Homo sapiens: one gene and its partners. The protein of the gene in region 2 purifies or fractionates together with the protein of the main gene of each other region. This does not show direct contact. Each region holds a gene or a part of one and is shown on either strand. Other genes may lie near its edges. The genes, in order: PPP4R3B, GCK, AGL and GMIP.

Region 1 (3,565 bases), on a different chromosome or scaffold from region 2:
CTTTACTGTACAACGCAGCACTCTACTTCTTAAAATCTGTGCATGTTGCTGAATATGTATTTAGTTTTTTGCTCCTAACTACTGCATGATATTTCACAAAATCATATCTCATGTTTTACTTTTTCAGTTCTGGGAAGTCATTACTGATCTTTGAAAGGACAATTTCAATTTCAGTAAGCGCCATATTACTTAATTATTTCTTAACCACCCCTGCCCGCCTTTTTTTTTTTTTTTTTTTTTTTTTTTTTTGAGACAGAGTTTCACTCTCGTTGCCCAGGCAAGAGTGCAGTGGTGTGATCTCGGCTCACTGCAACCTCCGCCTCCCAGGTTCAAGCAGTTCTGCTGCCTCAGCCTCTCGAGTAGCTGGGACTACAGGCATGCGCCACCACGCCCAGCTAATTTTGTGCTTTTAGTAGAGACAGGGTTTCTCCATGTTGGTCAGGCTGGTCTTGAACTCCTGACCTCAGGTGATCCGCCCAACTTGGCCTCCCAAAGTGCTGGCATTACAGGCGTGAGCCGCCACCCCTTATAATGAGAAAATAGAACAAAAAAGCTTCCCTGAAAAAGTTTGATGGTTCAGATAGTTCAGAGTGTCTTAAGGGGATTGGAGAATGATGAAATAGAAGGAACCATTGGAGAGAAATAAATTATAAAAACAAGAGCAAAGATAATTTTTATATGTTTAGCTTTGAGAAAGCATAAGTTTAGAAGTACATATGGAAATGTTAACCTTAGGAAATGGTATAGACATTTCCTTTGAAATGAATGAAGGAAATGTGTGAAGGTAAGTTGTGAGATGGAGAAATGTTAGAGGAAGTTGAGTACTGATGGGCTTTTTATTCAAAGGAAGCCTCTTATCTTCTGAGACTTAAAGGTGAAGGTAATGTTTGAGAAGTTGGAAAGTGAAAAAATATTTAAAGCAGCAGCTGTAAGGGATGACGATAGGATTATAGACTAGAGAATTTTTATTGAAAAACCCTATTGATAGTGTGGATTTATTGTGAATCCATACAGCAGAGTTCATTGGCTGTCTCTGAGACGTTATGATCAGATTGTGTTGTAGTAATACAATCCTAAAATTTCAATGGCTTGTCACAACAAAAGTTGATTTCTCCTTAATGCTGTTTGACCAATAGGGGAAGGGGCCCTACTCATGAGAGTCATTCAGGGACCAAGCTGGAAGAGAATTCATTTTATTTTATTTATTTATTTTATTTTAATTTTTTATTTTATTTTTTGAGACAGAGTCTTGCTTTGTCTTCCAGGCTGGAGTGCAGTGGTGCGATCTCAGCTCACTGCAACCTCCACCTTCCAGGTTCAAGCGATTCTCCTGCCTCAGCCACCTGAGTAGCTGAGATTACAGGCGTATGCCACCACACCTGGCTGATTTTTGTATTTTTAGTGGAGTTGGGGTTTCACCATGTTGCCCAGGCTGGTTTTGAACTCCTGACCTCAAGAGACCTGCCTGCCTCAGCCACCTAAAGTGCTGGGATTACAGGCGTGAGCCACCGTGCCTGGCCTAGACTTCACTTTTAATTAGTAGTGACTAGCCAGGCATTTCCAAATGATTTGATTTCCAAAATTTTGAATTATTTTGTATTTTAAGGTAATTAGCTGTATACTTGGATATTTTTAGGTTCAAGGTAAAGACCCATCAGTGGAAGTCACACAGGACCTCATTGATGAATCTGAAGAAGAACGATTTGAAGAAATGCCTGAAACTAGTCATCTGATTGACCTGCCCACATGTGAACTCAATAAACTTGAAGAGATTGCTGACTTAGTTACCTCAGTGCTCTCCTCACCTATCCGTAGGGAAAAGCTGGCTCTCGCCTTGGAAAATGAAGGCTATATTAAAAAACTATTGCAGCTGTTCCAAGCTTGCGAGAACCTAGAAAACACTGAAGGCTTACACCATTTGTATGAAATTATTAGAGGAATCTTATTCCTAAATAAGGCAACTCTTTTTGAGGTAATGTTTTCTGATGAGTGTATCATGGATGTCGTGGGATGCCTTGAATATGACCCTGCTTTGGCTCAGCCAAAAAGACATAGAGAATTCTTGACCAAAACTGCAAAGTTCAAGGAAGTTATACCAATAACAGACTCTGAACTAAGGCAAAAAATACATCAGACTTACAGGGTACAGTACATTCAGGACATCATTTTGCCCACACCATCTGTTTTTGAAGAGAATTTTCTTTCTACTCTTACGTCTTTTATTTTCTTCAACAAAGTTGAGATAGTCAGCATGTTGCAGGTAAGTAAAAAGATACTCTTCACGATTCCATTTTTCAGATATTTAGTTCCCTTAATAGTTCAAGCAGGTGTTTATACCCTCTATTTTTTGAAAGATTTATTTTGTTTAAATGTACTATTAAGTACATTTAAAGTAAACAAAAGAAATTGGGACTTTATGTCTTGTGGTTTTAGTGCAACCTTTTATTTATTTTTTTGAGTCGGAGTCTCGTTCTGTCGCCCAGGCTGGAATGCAGTGGCGCAATCTCAGCTCACTGCAACCTACGCTTCCCGGGTTCAAGCAATTCTTCTTCCTCAGCCTCCCGATTAGCTGAGACTACAGGTGTGCACTGCCATGCCCAGCTGATTTTTTTGTATTTTTAGTAGGGAAGGGGTTTCACTGTGTTGCCCAGACTGGTGTTGAACTCCTGAGCTCAGGCAGTCCGCCCGCCTCAGCCTCCCAAAGTGCTGGGATTATAGGCGTGAGCCACCGCGCCCAGCCCAGCCTTTTATATTTTTAAGTAGCCTGTGTTTTAGCTTTTTATACAATTTAGTATTTGTGTTTCTAAAATTGAGGTAGAATATACATAACATAAAATTCACCGTTTTGACTATTTATTTATTTATTTATTTTTTGAGATGGAGTTTTGCTCTTGTTGCCCAAGCTGGAGTGCAATGGCATGATCTCAGCTCGCCGCAACCTCTGCCTCCTGGGTTCAAGTGATTCTCCTGTCTCAGCCTCCTGAGTAGCTGGGATTACAGGCATGTGCCTCCACGCCGAGCTAGTTTTGTTTGTTTGTTTGTTTGTTTGTTTTTGAGACGGAGTCTTGCTCGGTCGCCCAGGCTGAAGTGCAGTGGCGCAATCTTGGCTCACTGCAAGCTCCGCCTCCCGGGTTCACGCCATTCTCCTGCCTCAGCCTCCCGGGTAGCTGGGACTACAGGCGCCCGCCATCACGCCCAGCTAATTTTTTGTGTTTTTAGTAGAGACAAGGTTTCACCATTTTAGCCAGGATGGTCTCGATCTCCTGACCTTGTGATCCACCCACCTCAGCCTCCCAAAGTGCTGGGATTACAGGCGTGAGCCACCCCGCCCAGCCCAATTTTTTGTATTTTTAGTAGAGGGGGGTTTCTCCATGTTGGTCAGGCTGGTCTCGAACTCCCAACCTGAGGTGATCCACCTGCCCCGGCCTCCCAAAGTGCTTGGATTACAGGCATGAGTCACTGTGCCCGGCCAGTTTCAACAATTTTTAAGTGTACAATTCATTGGCATTAAGTATATTTGCAGTGTTATGCAGCAGTTACCACTATCCATTTCCAGAACTTTTTC
Region 2 (3,565 bases):
TGCCAGCATGGTCAGGTTGCAGGGAGGGCTCTCTTCCTGACTTGCAGACCGCCACCTTCTTGCTGTGTCCTCACATCGTGGAGAGAGAGTGAAAACAAGCTCTCTGGTGTCTCTTCTTATAAGAATGCTAATCCTATGATGGGGGCTCCCCCTCCTTACCTCATCTAAACCTAATTATCTCCCAAAGGTCTCATCTCCAGATACCATCACACTGGGGTTAGGGCTTTGACATATGAATCTGGGGGGACACAATTCAATCTGTAACACCAGGAGGGCATGCCGGGAGGAACTGACCTTCCTCCCTCCAGCTGCCCTGGACACCTTTGCCCCATTGAAGGAGCAGGCTCAGAAGTGGAATGAGGATGGAATAAGGTGCACTCCATCATGCTTACCCACATCCCTGGCAGGAATTGTCCTGGGCCCCAGCAGGAGAGATGCCCCCCCATACTGCCATGGCACCTGCTCTGAGACAGGTGTGCAGAGTGCAAAGCTCCAGGTGGCCCCCAAGCAGGTGTGCTGGGAGGAGGGGCCCGTGTGGGAGGAGCAGGCAGCGCCAAGGCCTAGCGGAGCAGTGACAGGTCCCTGACTTCAGGGAATGGGCACGCTGTGGGCAGGCAGCTGGTGTGGGGGTGAGGGCTGGGGCTGCATCTGTGGGACCAGGGCTGGGCCATCCATCATATGCCGTGTCACAACCCCAGTGCCCCTGCTGTAGCCAGGACAGGAGGCTGGGCCAGGCTGGGAGGTGACAAGAGTGGGGGCTGTCCCCAGGAGAAGCACTCTGCTGCCTGTGCCCAGGCCTCTGGGGATGAGGACCCCTCAGAAGGAGTAGCTATGTCTAGGAAGCCCCAGGGCAGGAGCAAGCCAAAGGGGACATCATTAGTGAGATCCAGGGGATCAGTGGGCCACAGAAGCCCCAGCGTGAGCCCCTCTGACTGATGCAGCTAGGCCCACACCTGCACCTGCCCACAGCAAGACCCCCAGGAGGAGAGGGGACAGATGGAGAGAGGCACAAAGTGCCCCTGGCCTCTGCCTTGAAGCCACCCCAAGGCAAGAGAGATTTGAGCCCCTGTTTAGTGACCTCCAGGGGAACATTCTGGCCCATCTGATGTGGGAAGCCCCTTGTGGAGTCTGTCATTCCTCAGCTGAGCCAGGCCTTTGGAGGCAGCCCAGGCATGTCCCCTGTGTGCTCCTATCCCTGTGTTGGGACACCTGGCCCAGCCCCTCCTTCTGCCTTTCTCTTCCCTTCCCTTCTCAGGAGTGGACACTTCCTCCTTTAGCCCCCTCACAGCTGTGTGAACTTCTCTGTATCTCTCTCTTTCTGTCTCTTTCTCCCCCTCTCTCTCTGTCTCATTGTCTCTCTGTGTGTCTGTCTGTAGTATTCTCTCTCTGTCTCTGTCACTCTGTCTCTCTCTCTCTCTGTGTCTACCTTTCTGTATTTCGCTTTGTTTCTTTTTCTCTGTGTGTGTGTGTGTGTATCTGTTTTTCTCACTCTCTCTCTGTGTCTATCTTTCTGTATTTCGCTTTGTTTCTTTTTCTGTGTGTGTGTGTGTGTATATCTGTTTTTCTCACTCTCTCAATCTCTCTCTCTCTTTCTGTCTCTCTTTTGCTGGCCTGAGCAAAGAGGGAGCCCCATCCTGATGCTACATAACCGTGAACCAGCACAGACAGAATTGTAGGAAAGTCCTGCAAGTAGAAGGATAGAAGGATGAGGGAAGAAACGCCATGTGAGTCATGACAGATCCCTTTCCAGGAGCCACTGACTCACCCTGCCTCCTGCCCTCCCACTGTGACACTATTACTCACAGACAGGCCCGGATTAAACCTATGTTCCAGGTGCCCTGTGGTTCCCACAGTGTGGCTCCCTGGGTCTGGCCTCAGGCTCCACAGGTGCCCAGCCCTGCCAAAGTCTCCAGAGCAGCTGTCCAGCTGGGGAGCTGCGGGGCCCCTTCACAGAGCGCATGGGAAGAAGTTCCATCCTACACATTACATCGAGAGGGACGTGCCTGAGAAGGGGAGCTGGAGCCCGTGCAGCCCCCTGCTTGCGTGCAGAACATAGTGTACCCTGAGCATGCCATGAAAAACACAAACGCACAAAGTTGTAAAGAAAAAAGAAATGACAGGTGGCTGTAAAATCAGTTATAGCCCACGAGAGGCCCACTAATGAGTGGTGATTTCAGCTGATTACAAAGAAATGATGGTGTTTCTGTAATGAACTAAACATGCACTCGTGCGTGCACACACGCGCACGTATAGTCACATAACTGACCAGCCCTATGCATCACTTGTTAATTACTTAGTAACTGTAACAATAATAGTTTCCAATAAGTGAGCCTTAGTCTCTGCGCAAGGGTCAGTTTATTGAGCACACGGGGGCCTTGCAGTGGGGGCAGGTGATCTGCTCCTGGGAGCCGCCAGCCTCTCCTCTCCTGCTCTTCATCTTCCTCCGTGGTGGGAAATTGTCTCACTGCTTCTACACCTGAGGCTGAACATCTCCCTTTATTTCAGTCTGAAACACATGTAAAAATATACTGGAATGAATTAAGGTTGCAATTATTGATATCAGGCAGTGAGTACATCAGGGTTTATTATACTATCTCCTTTACTTACTTCGAAGTTCTCTATTACCAAAAAATTAAAAACTATAAAAGAAAGAAAAAGGAAATGAGGCTAGATTCAACACAGATTACTCTTACCAAACCCTTCGTAGTCCCAGGAGTCCCCTAACACAAGCACTTGTGACCTGGAGTGATATTCACAGCATTCCTTACCTGGCAATACCTGAGTATTAGCCCCCCCAGTGGGATCTTTGTTGTAGACAACCAGCAACTATCAGCCCAGCCAATAAACAAGTAGGAAAGGGGAGTGCTGGAGAGGCCAAGAAGTGGGATTTTCCATGCTCCTGGGCTGTGATCCAGAGGGCACGGCTGTGAGGCTGATCTCAATGAACACTCTGTCTTGGAAGTACAGGGATCCTCTGCTACCTGAAAACGTTCTGAGTATTCACTTTCATGGATTGCAAAGTCATTTACCCAAAATTCACTCTCCAAATGAAAAGTGAGTATGATGAATCAGTATTCAAGTTCCACCTGGGTCCTGGGAGAGGGCATGGACATCATATCCCAGCTGTTCCGACAGGAGGACCCAATCTGAGTCTCACTGCCTGCCTGCATCGTTTGTCTGCTGCCAGCCTGCACAGTAGGAAGGGAAAACATGATTTGTATCTGTTTTAGGTCAGGTTCCCAAGAAGTAGAGCCTGAGATTGGAATTCTTGGAAAATGGTGTTTGCGGGAGCGCTGTCAGCAGAAGCTATAAGGAAGTTGGGGGGACAGAAAACGAGAGGTAAGAAGCCAGTCAAAAAGGCAGGTCCAGCTTAAGTCCGCCTCAGTCTGGTTCCACAAGGGCTCTGATGCATGAAGAATATCACAGGGTTGTCCCTCCTGGGAGAGGGGCCAGCCTATTGTACCTGTATCAAAGCCACCAGCTGAGGGCCAGTGGGGAGGGAAGATCTTCCAGGCATTTCCAGGAAACTCTCAGGAGAAGGGTGTAGCTGTGAGCAGTCTGCAGC
Region 3 (3,565 bases), on a different chromosome or scaffold from region 2:
GGATGTTAGAGTCCAAGAGGTATGAAGAGGGAGTCCACCAAGGGTGAGAGTGGTCCAGAGTGGGTAGTTAGAATCCAAGTGGTGCCAGGAGGGCTCCACACATAGAGGTGGCTTACTGTGGGGTAGCAGGCCCAAGCTGGGTGAGCAGACTCTATGTGGTGGTGATGGCCCAATGTGGGAAGTAGGTTATTCATTGTTGGAAAAGGGAATTACAAATATAGAAAGGGAGAAAAATAGAATTAAACACTGAGAAATAGCTTGGAACTGGTGTAAACTCAGGTTTTCAACACACATAGACAGGATACATTGAGATGAAGATAAGTGTGTATGTATTTACTTATGTTTATGTATTATTATATATTCCCTAGCCCTATCTACTGGGGGTCATAGTAATAATAAATACACCATGTGCTCAGATCTGGCTTCTAAATAACATTTTTCACTATAAAGAACAAGGGATCCTTAGAGAATTGCCCAATTCCAGGCTGGGGTAGTGAAAGTGAAAGATGAGTGTTGAAAACCTTGCTGGGCCAGAAAGCAAGGAAGGACTTCCATATGTGACAAACAGGAAGTAGTATGGACAGAATTTCCCTCCTGTCTGATACAACTGAAGAACTGGACATTAAGACATTAGACATTAGGCAACAAATAGCGATCCTTGAAGGATGAGAAACAAATGAAGCAAACCCTATGATTACCATACCTTACTGCCTTGAGAGTTTCCAGGATTTGGCACAGAGAGGGGGAACACAGGTGGAGCCTGGCAGACTTCCTTGAGTTGAACTGAGAATCCAGGAACACTACAAAGCAGCTACAATTTGCAGGATAGAGTACTAGAGAGGAAGGAGCTGTACAAAGAGAGAACTCTGAAGATATGCAGAGGGTCCCACTCAAGTATCTGTAGTGTACCAACCAGCAAATTCACAAGAGGAAACTACCAAAGAACAAGGAAAGAACCATCCAAAAGGATGAGAAGAAGCAGTATGTGGCACTCATACAGCGTCAGGAACACTTGCTTGTTCCCACCAGCCAGATTTGAAAACGTCATAATTTTCGAAATACAGGGTAGGGAACACAGATGGGTCTTGATTCACTAATGGAGAATAATTATTCCTAGACCAAATGCTATTCTGGTCAGGTCTAACAAGCTTAAAATCAAGACCAGAAAGGATCAAACTGTTTCCAAGTAATTTCACTGCATTCCAAAACAAAGCTCAAAAACATTTACAGAAACACCAAAAATCTAGCACCCAACAAGGTAAAATTCACATCTGGTATCTAATAAAAAATAACCAGGCAAATGGCTGGGTGTGGTGGCTCATGCCTGTAATCTCAGCACTTCAGGAGGCCGAGGTTGGGGGACTGCTTGAGCCTAGGAGTTCGAGACCAGCCTGGGCAAGATAGCAAGACCCCTGTCGCTCCAAAAATCAAAAAACAAAAACTACCAAGCAAAGAAGCAGGGTGATATGACCCAAAATAAAGAGAACAATCACAAGCAAAAGCAACCCAGAAATGAATTAGCAGACAAGGATATTAAAAGAGTCACTGTAATCATATTCCACATGTTCAAAACATTAAGCAGAGACATGGAAGATATAAAAACAGCCCAGATAAAACTTTGAGAAATGAAAACTACAACGTTGAAATGAAAAACACCAGCATGGATGTGATGGTAGGTTAGACATAAAAATGATGCAGATTTCTTATCAAAACAATGTAACCACCTTAAAGTATGAAAGAGAAAAAAGCTTAACTTTGAATTCTATACATAGTGAAAATATCTTTAAAATAAAGGCAAAACACAGATGTTTTACACTTATAAGAATTGAAAGAATTCATCATGAGGAGGCAAACACTACAAGACATGATGGAGAAAGTCCTTCGGGTAGAAGGAAAATGATACAAGATGGAGATACAGAACATCACAAACATATGAAGAGCACTGAAAATGGCAACTATAAGAGTAATTAGACTTTTTAATATATTATTTAAAGATCATTAAAACATAACTGACTGCCTAAACAAATGTAGTAACCATGTAGTGTGGGGGGTAATAACAGGTAAAAGCAAAATGGATGATGATGATAGCACACAGGCCGGGAGGGGAAAAATAAAACTATACTATTTTAAGGATCTTTATACCTTACTTGAAGTGGTATATCACTGGAAGGTAAACTATAAAGACATATACTATAAACCTAAAGCAGCCATTTTAAATAAACAAGAATTACATCTAATTAGCCAACAAAGGAGATTAAAATGAAATAATAAATATTCAATGCAAAAGAAGCACAAAAAGAGGAAAAAGCTAACAAAGAACAGACAGAATAAACAGACAACAAACATTTAAATTTCACAATTTCAGACCTTAAGTGTAAATGGTCTAAATATTCCAAAAGCAGAAACTGTTGTGCTACACGAGAGCAAGGCCCGATTACATGCTACTATGTACAAGAAAGCCACTTTAAATACAAAGACATAAATAGCTTAAAAGGATGGTAAAATCTGTACCATGGTGACAACCAAACAAAACAGACCAGGAGTGGCTCTATTAATATGAAACACGCAGAAGTCCCTTATGTGCTTGTAAGAAAGGAGATAAAATTTGTGCTGTTTATTCATTATCTGAGGAATAGAATATAGATATACTTAGGTATAATCTAAAATTTGAGGAATTAAGATACACTCTGAATTTATACTCTTATAAAGATACGTAACTCTGACACTGTCTATTTGCTAATAATTAGGACAAGGAAGTGAAAAATGTTTTTTGAACTAACAGGCAAAAGACCAGTTCTGATATTTTAACTATAATGAAAGCATTTCTGAAAACTATTTCTTGATATATCTTTAAATCAATTAACTCAAAAGGCCCAGGCTGAGTACCTTCAGTTTTTATATTTATCCTGTGCTAACCACATCCAAAAACATCAGGGAAATTTTAAAAATCAAAGACTATTCCACATGTATAAATCGCACAATATCAAGACCTCAACTTAAAATAAATAACAACCCAAAATAAGAGAAAGTGAAAATTATATAACAGAATTTGTCATGTTAAAGAATAAAGGCTTCACTTTTCATTGGGATACCTAGGGCATACAGAAATCAATTCTAAGAAACTGTAATTTACCTAATAGCTAATAAACTGACTAAACACTAGTTATGGAAATTACATGCTCCTGATGACTTACCTCTCAAGATGAACATAATGTCGGGAAAGAACATTTTTAACCAAAACTATAGTCTTTGCAGTAGTCTCCGGGCCCATCAATCTGGAAAAATATAATTTTGCACGAAGAAAATACCCAATAGGCCACAGCCACTCCTAAAAAAGATTATTTAAAAGACAAAAAAAACCATAAATACCTAAAAATTACTTGAAAAATAATTTAAACTGAAACTCAGAAGATAAATGAAATTCTTACAGGTCCTTGGTGATAATTGAAACCTTTAGCAAGATTGTAGTTGTCATTGTCTAATGCATTGTCATAAATTCCACAGTAAACCATATCACTGCAAAATGATTGAAATTTAAGTTAAATAAAAGATGATCAGATATTAT
Region 4 (4,325 bases), on a different chromosome or scaffold from region 2:
CGATTTTGGCTCACCAAAACCTCTGCCTCCCGGGTTCAAGCGATTCTCCTGCCTCAGCCTCCTGAGTAGCTGGGATTACAGGCATGCGCCACCATGCCCGGCTAATTTTTTGTATTTTTAGTAGAGACGAGGTTTCTCTATGTTGGTCAGGCTGGTCTCGAACTCCCAATCTCAGGTGATCTGCCCGCCTCGGCCTCCCAAAGTGCTGGGATTACAGGCATGAGCCACCGTGCCCGGCCTGTGTTTGATGGGTTTTTTTATTTTTATTTTTGAGGCGGAGTCTCGCTCTGTCGCTCAGGCTGGAGTGCAATGGCCCTATTTTGCCTCACTGCAAGCTCCGCCTCCTGGGTTCCCGCCATTCTCCTGCCTCAGCCTCCCGAGTATCTGGGACTACAGGCACTCGCCACTGCGCCCGGCTAAATTTTTTTGTATTTTTAGTAGAGATGGGGTTTCACCATGTTAGCCAGGATGGTCTCGATCTCCTGACCTCGTGGTCCACCCGCCTCAGCCTCCAAAGTGCTGGGATTACAGGCGTGAGCCACTGCGTCCGGCCTTGTGTTTGATTTTTTTGGACATGGTCTTGCTCTGTCATCCAGGCTGGAGTGCAGTGGCACAATCGTATCTCACTGCAGCCTCAAAGTCCTGGGCTTAATCAGTCCTCCAGCCTCAGCTTCCAAAGTAGCTGGGACTACAGGCACACACCACCACACCCAGCTAATTAAAAAAATATTTTTTCTTTTGGTAGGGATGGTGTCTTACTGTTGCCCAGCATGGTCACGAATTCCTGGCTTCAAGTGATCCTCCTACCTCAGCCTCCACCCTGCCTGGGGTCTCCCTGAGGGCTGGGACTGAGATCTGTTGTGTGTACTGCCATATTCCCAAAACCTAAACGATGCCTTGCATGGAACAGGGGATCAGTGGTGATTTGTTGAAGGAAAGACTCCTGTCTGTCCCCACTGTCCTGGCCTCCAGACCCCCCTACCTGTGAGGGGTACAGGACCCTCTGGGGAGGGGCCGCTCCAACAGCTGGCTTCGTTGGTCTGTGCGGGAGGGAGACAGTATTCAGAAGCAAACAGGGCAGGGGCCTGGCCTTCCTAAGGCCCCCTCTGCTTGAGGTCTTCCTCCCTGTTCCCCTACTCCCCACTCACAACAGTGGCTGTAGGGGTCTTGTCAGGTTCTGGGTCTTCTGAGAGTAGAGGGTCTCCAGCCAGCATCTCAAGGGTCCTGGGGGATAAAGGTGTGTCAGGATGCCACCTTACACCCAGTCTGTCCTGCCAAGGGGTGCTGGGGACCTTAGGGTTGTTTGTGGCAAACATCACCTCTGTGGCATCTCTTGTGTCTGGGAGGTCTGAAGAATGGTGTTTTGGGGGAATCAGGTGAGTTTTTTTTAAATAGGACTTGAAAAAGCATCTGAAGGGCCCCAGATAACTTTGAGGTTCATAGAGTGGGATTATAGGGATCGCAAATATTTTAAGGGGTTACAAGGATATGTAGGGGTTCTAGGACCACTTTGGGGATTTCCAGTCTATTTAGGGGGACACTTTTAGGATACCGAGGCATTTTGGAGGGTCCCATCCTAGACTTCTCTGGTTATTAGGTATGTAGGTCCAGATGTTACAGGTTCCAAATGGGACTGCAAGGCACCTAAATGGTTAGGGGCTTGGGGCATCTTGGCAGGATTTGGGGGTGATCCAGGCTCAGACTCACACGTTCCCCAGTGAGATTTCGAGGTTGTCCAGGCTCCGGAAGATGTCACTGTACCTCTTCCTGCCCTCAGGACCTGGGGGGAGTCCTAGGGGAGGGGAGTGTAATACATGGGCTAACCACTGCCTCCCTCCACCCACGGCACCTCAACCAGTCTCATTTGGAGGGGGTGGAAGAGAAAGGGAAGAGTGAGAGAGAGAAAGAGAGGGCTGGGGGGGGCTTGGTTGGGGCCAACTCGAGGCAGGCAGATGGACTCACACACCACCAGAGACCAGAGACAGCTGCTCGGGGAACAGAGACACCCACTCCCTGGGTCTGCCTGCACCCAGAAGCAAACCAACAAAACAGATGCCCCAGATGCAACCAGGCTGTCCCGAGAAGAAAGCCGGTCTGACAATGGAACCACGGGCTAGACAGATGGAAATACACAAGGGACAGCCAGGCAGAGCCTGGGGCAGAAACACACATGGAGAGACTGAAGCCGTGAGGGACATAAAGACCGAATGACACTCCACATACACAACACAGACACAAAGACGGCCGGAAACACCAAGTCGGACCCCGCCACATTTCTACTGCTGCCCCCCTGCCCCCTCTCCTAAGGGGCCTAGACCAGCACTGCCGACTCCCCAGGGCTACAGAGGGGCCCTGTGGGGATCCTACCGCGTTGCCCTCTCCCTCAGCAGTCGTGGCACCCTGCCCCCATCACAAAAATCAGAAGCAGAAGCAGTCACTTCCCCTTCCTGGGCCCCCTCCCCCAGGCGTCTGGGGTGAGGGATCAAAAGGGGGAGGGGGAGTGAAGGGCTGGGGTCCTGAACCCATCCGGGCACAGGGCTCCCCACAATGGAGGATCCCTGGGTCCTTCCCATTCAGGAACTCCTCTCCTGGCTCTCAGGACGGAGCGGGACAAGTGTGTGCCCTCAATGTAGGAAGCAGGGGATGGTCGGGGGAGGCCCCTCCCGGATCCCCGACCCCCTACCCGGCTCTGCTGCGTCCATATCTGGGCCCGGGGATCGCTCTGCAGGGACCGGGATGGGGATGGGGTCGCGCGCCGGCGGGGCCGAGCCCCGATTTCCTGCCGCCGCAGCCGCCGCCGCCGCCTCGGTTCCGCGTCGCCCTGCCCAGCGGAGGCCACGCCCCCGCATCAGACCACGCCCCCGTAGCCCGGAAGCCTTGATAGTGCCCTTCTCTACCTGAGCCGCTTGAAACTGGGTCGGGCCAGGGCCCCCTGAGCGACCACTCGAGGCTGCAGTGCCCCTGACCTGGGCATCCTAAGACTTCATCTGGGCCATAGGTTCCCTCTCAGATCTTTGTGCTACCCCAAATCCCACGGAGCCCCAGCCCCCTCCTCCCTGAATGGTTGCAGAGTCCACCTGTCCCGGGGGGCCTCTCCCAGGAGCTCCCACAACCCGCGACCCTGGTGATCCCCTTGCCCAGGTTGTCTCTCGGAGCCCTGAAACCACCTGGGCCTCGCTGGAGCCATGGCGCCCCCTGGTGGAGGCCTGATATTCTGTCCGATTCCAACCAAAATTCTAATACTCGGGCTGGAGAACCCCTGGCCTGGGGGACGCCCCTTCCGTGACCCTCAAAGCTGGATCAGGCTCAAGGCCCCAATTACAGCACACCAGGGAGCAGCCCTTTTAGGTAGGGAGTGGAGGTTTGTCCAAAAGCACCAGCTCTGGGGTTGCCACAAGCCGCCTGTTATAAAAATGCTCCCACCCCCAGCACAGTGGAATTTTGGGGCTGGAAATAGACTTTAAAGTATGTTTATAACTTTGTGTCCAAAGGCTTTGGCTGTTAAGGAGGCAAGGATTCTCTGACTGGCTCCGTGCTGCCTACTCTGCAGTTCTTGAGTTGTGATGAGTGAGTCCATTGAAAGGAATAACACTATCAACCTAAGAGCCAAGCCAGGTTTCCAGGTCACATCCTGGCTGATGCTCAGCCAGAGCTCCCTGACTGTGACATGAGATGGTAGAGCAGCGCAGGCCCCCAAAGAGCATGACAGAGTCAGTACTTGTTTGTTTTTCTTTTGAGTTGGAGTCTCGCTCTGTTGCCCAGGCTGGAGTGCAGTGGCGTTATCTCGGCTCACTGCAAGCTCCACCTCCTGGGTTCACGCCATTCTCCTGCCTCAGCCTCCCGAGTAACTGGGACTACAGGCACTCGCCACCATGCCTGGCTAATTTTTTGTATTTTTAGTAGAGATGGGGTTTCACTGTGTTAGCCAGGATGGTCTCGATCTCCTGACCTTGTGATGGGCCCGCCTTGGCCTCCCAAAGTGCTGGGATTACAGGCTTGAGCCACCGGACAGAGTCAATACTTGTAATGATGCAGATCATATTCCTCAAGTCTCAGACACCACCCGAGAGAAAGGCATGCTGTTATGTATTATGGGAAAGAAAAAAATATCACACATCCTAAGGCTTCTCTCAGCACCTGAGTTGTTAAAATGTGAAAGAGACCTCAGAAATATGGGGGTGCTTGTTAAACTAGAAAATATGCACTGAATTCTCTGGGCAGGGACAAGTCCATGTTCAAGTGCTGAAAGTGCCAGAGGGTTTCACCAACATCACACGCCTGTGGGGAGGGTGCTGGGACCTTCCTCAGTGACCCTCTGTCCCCGA

What was found.
Region 1: the proteins of GCK (region 2) and PPP4R3B fractionate together in Homo sapiens (co-fractionation; one large-scale study listed by BioGRID). This does not show direct contact.
Region 3: the proteins of GCK (region 2) and AGL fractionate together in Homo sapiens (co-fractionation; one large-scale study listed by BioGRID). This does not show direct contact.
Region 4: the proteins of GCK (region 2) and GMIP fractionate together in Homo sapiens (co-fractionation; one large-scale study listed by BioGRID). This does not show direct contact.

The regions. Positions count from the first base shown.
Region 1 is NC_000002.12:55,597,111-55,600,675, reverse strand, and holds part of PPP4R3B (serine/threonine-protein phosphatase 4 regulatory subunit 3B), read left to right. Parts: intron 1-1,636; coding exon 1,637-2,260; intron 2,261-3,565. UniProt on the Homo sapiens protein: Regulatory subunit of serine/threonine-protein phosphatase 4 (PP4). May regulate the activity of PPP4C at centrosomal microtubule organizing centers.
Region 2 is NC_000007.14:44,182,925-44,186,489, reverse strand, and holds part of GCK (hexokinase-4), read left to right. Parts: intron 1-2,336; exon of another isoform or gene 2,337-2,506; intron 2,507-3,029; exon of another isoform or gene 3,030-3,188; intron 3,189-3,565. UniProt on the Homo sapiens protein: Catalyzes the phosphorylation of hexose, such as D-glucose, D-fructose and D-mannose, to hexose 6-phosphate (D-glucose 6-phosphate, D-fructose 6-phosphate and D-mannose 6-phosphate, respectively).
Region 3 is NC_000001.11:99,916,361-99,919,925, reverse strand, and holds part of AGL (glycogen debranching enzyme), read right to left. Parts: intron 3,517-3,565; coding exon 3,429-3,516; intron 3,329-3,428; coding exon 3,195-3,328; intron 1-3,194. UniProt on the Homo sapiens protein: Multifunctional enzyme acting as 1,4-alpha-D-glucan:1,4-alpha-D-glucan 4-alpha-D-glycosyltransferase and amylo-1,6-glucosidase in glycogen degradation.
Region 4 is NC_000019.10:19,640,828-19,645,152, forward strand, and holds the start of GMIP (GEM-interacting protein), read right to left. Parts: upstream 2,831-4,325; 5' UTR 2,703-2,830; coding exon 2,684-2,702; intron 1,793-2,683; coding exon 1,708-1,792; intron 1,225-1,707; coding exon 1,149-1,224; intron 1,041-1,148; coding exon 983-1,040; intron 1-982. UniProt on the Homo sapiens protein: Stimulates, in vitro and in vivo, the GTPase activity of RhoA.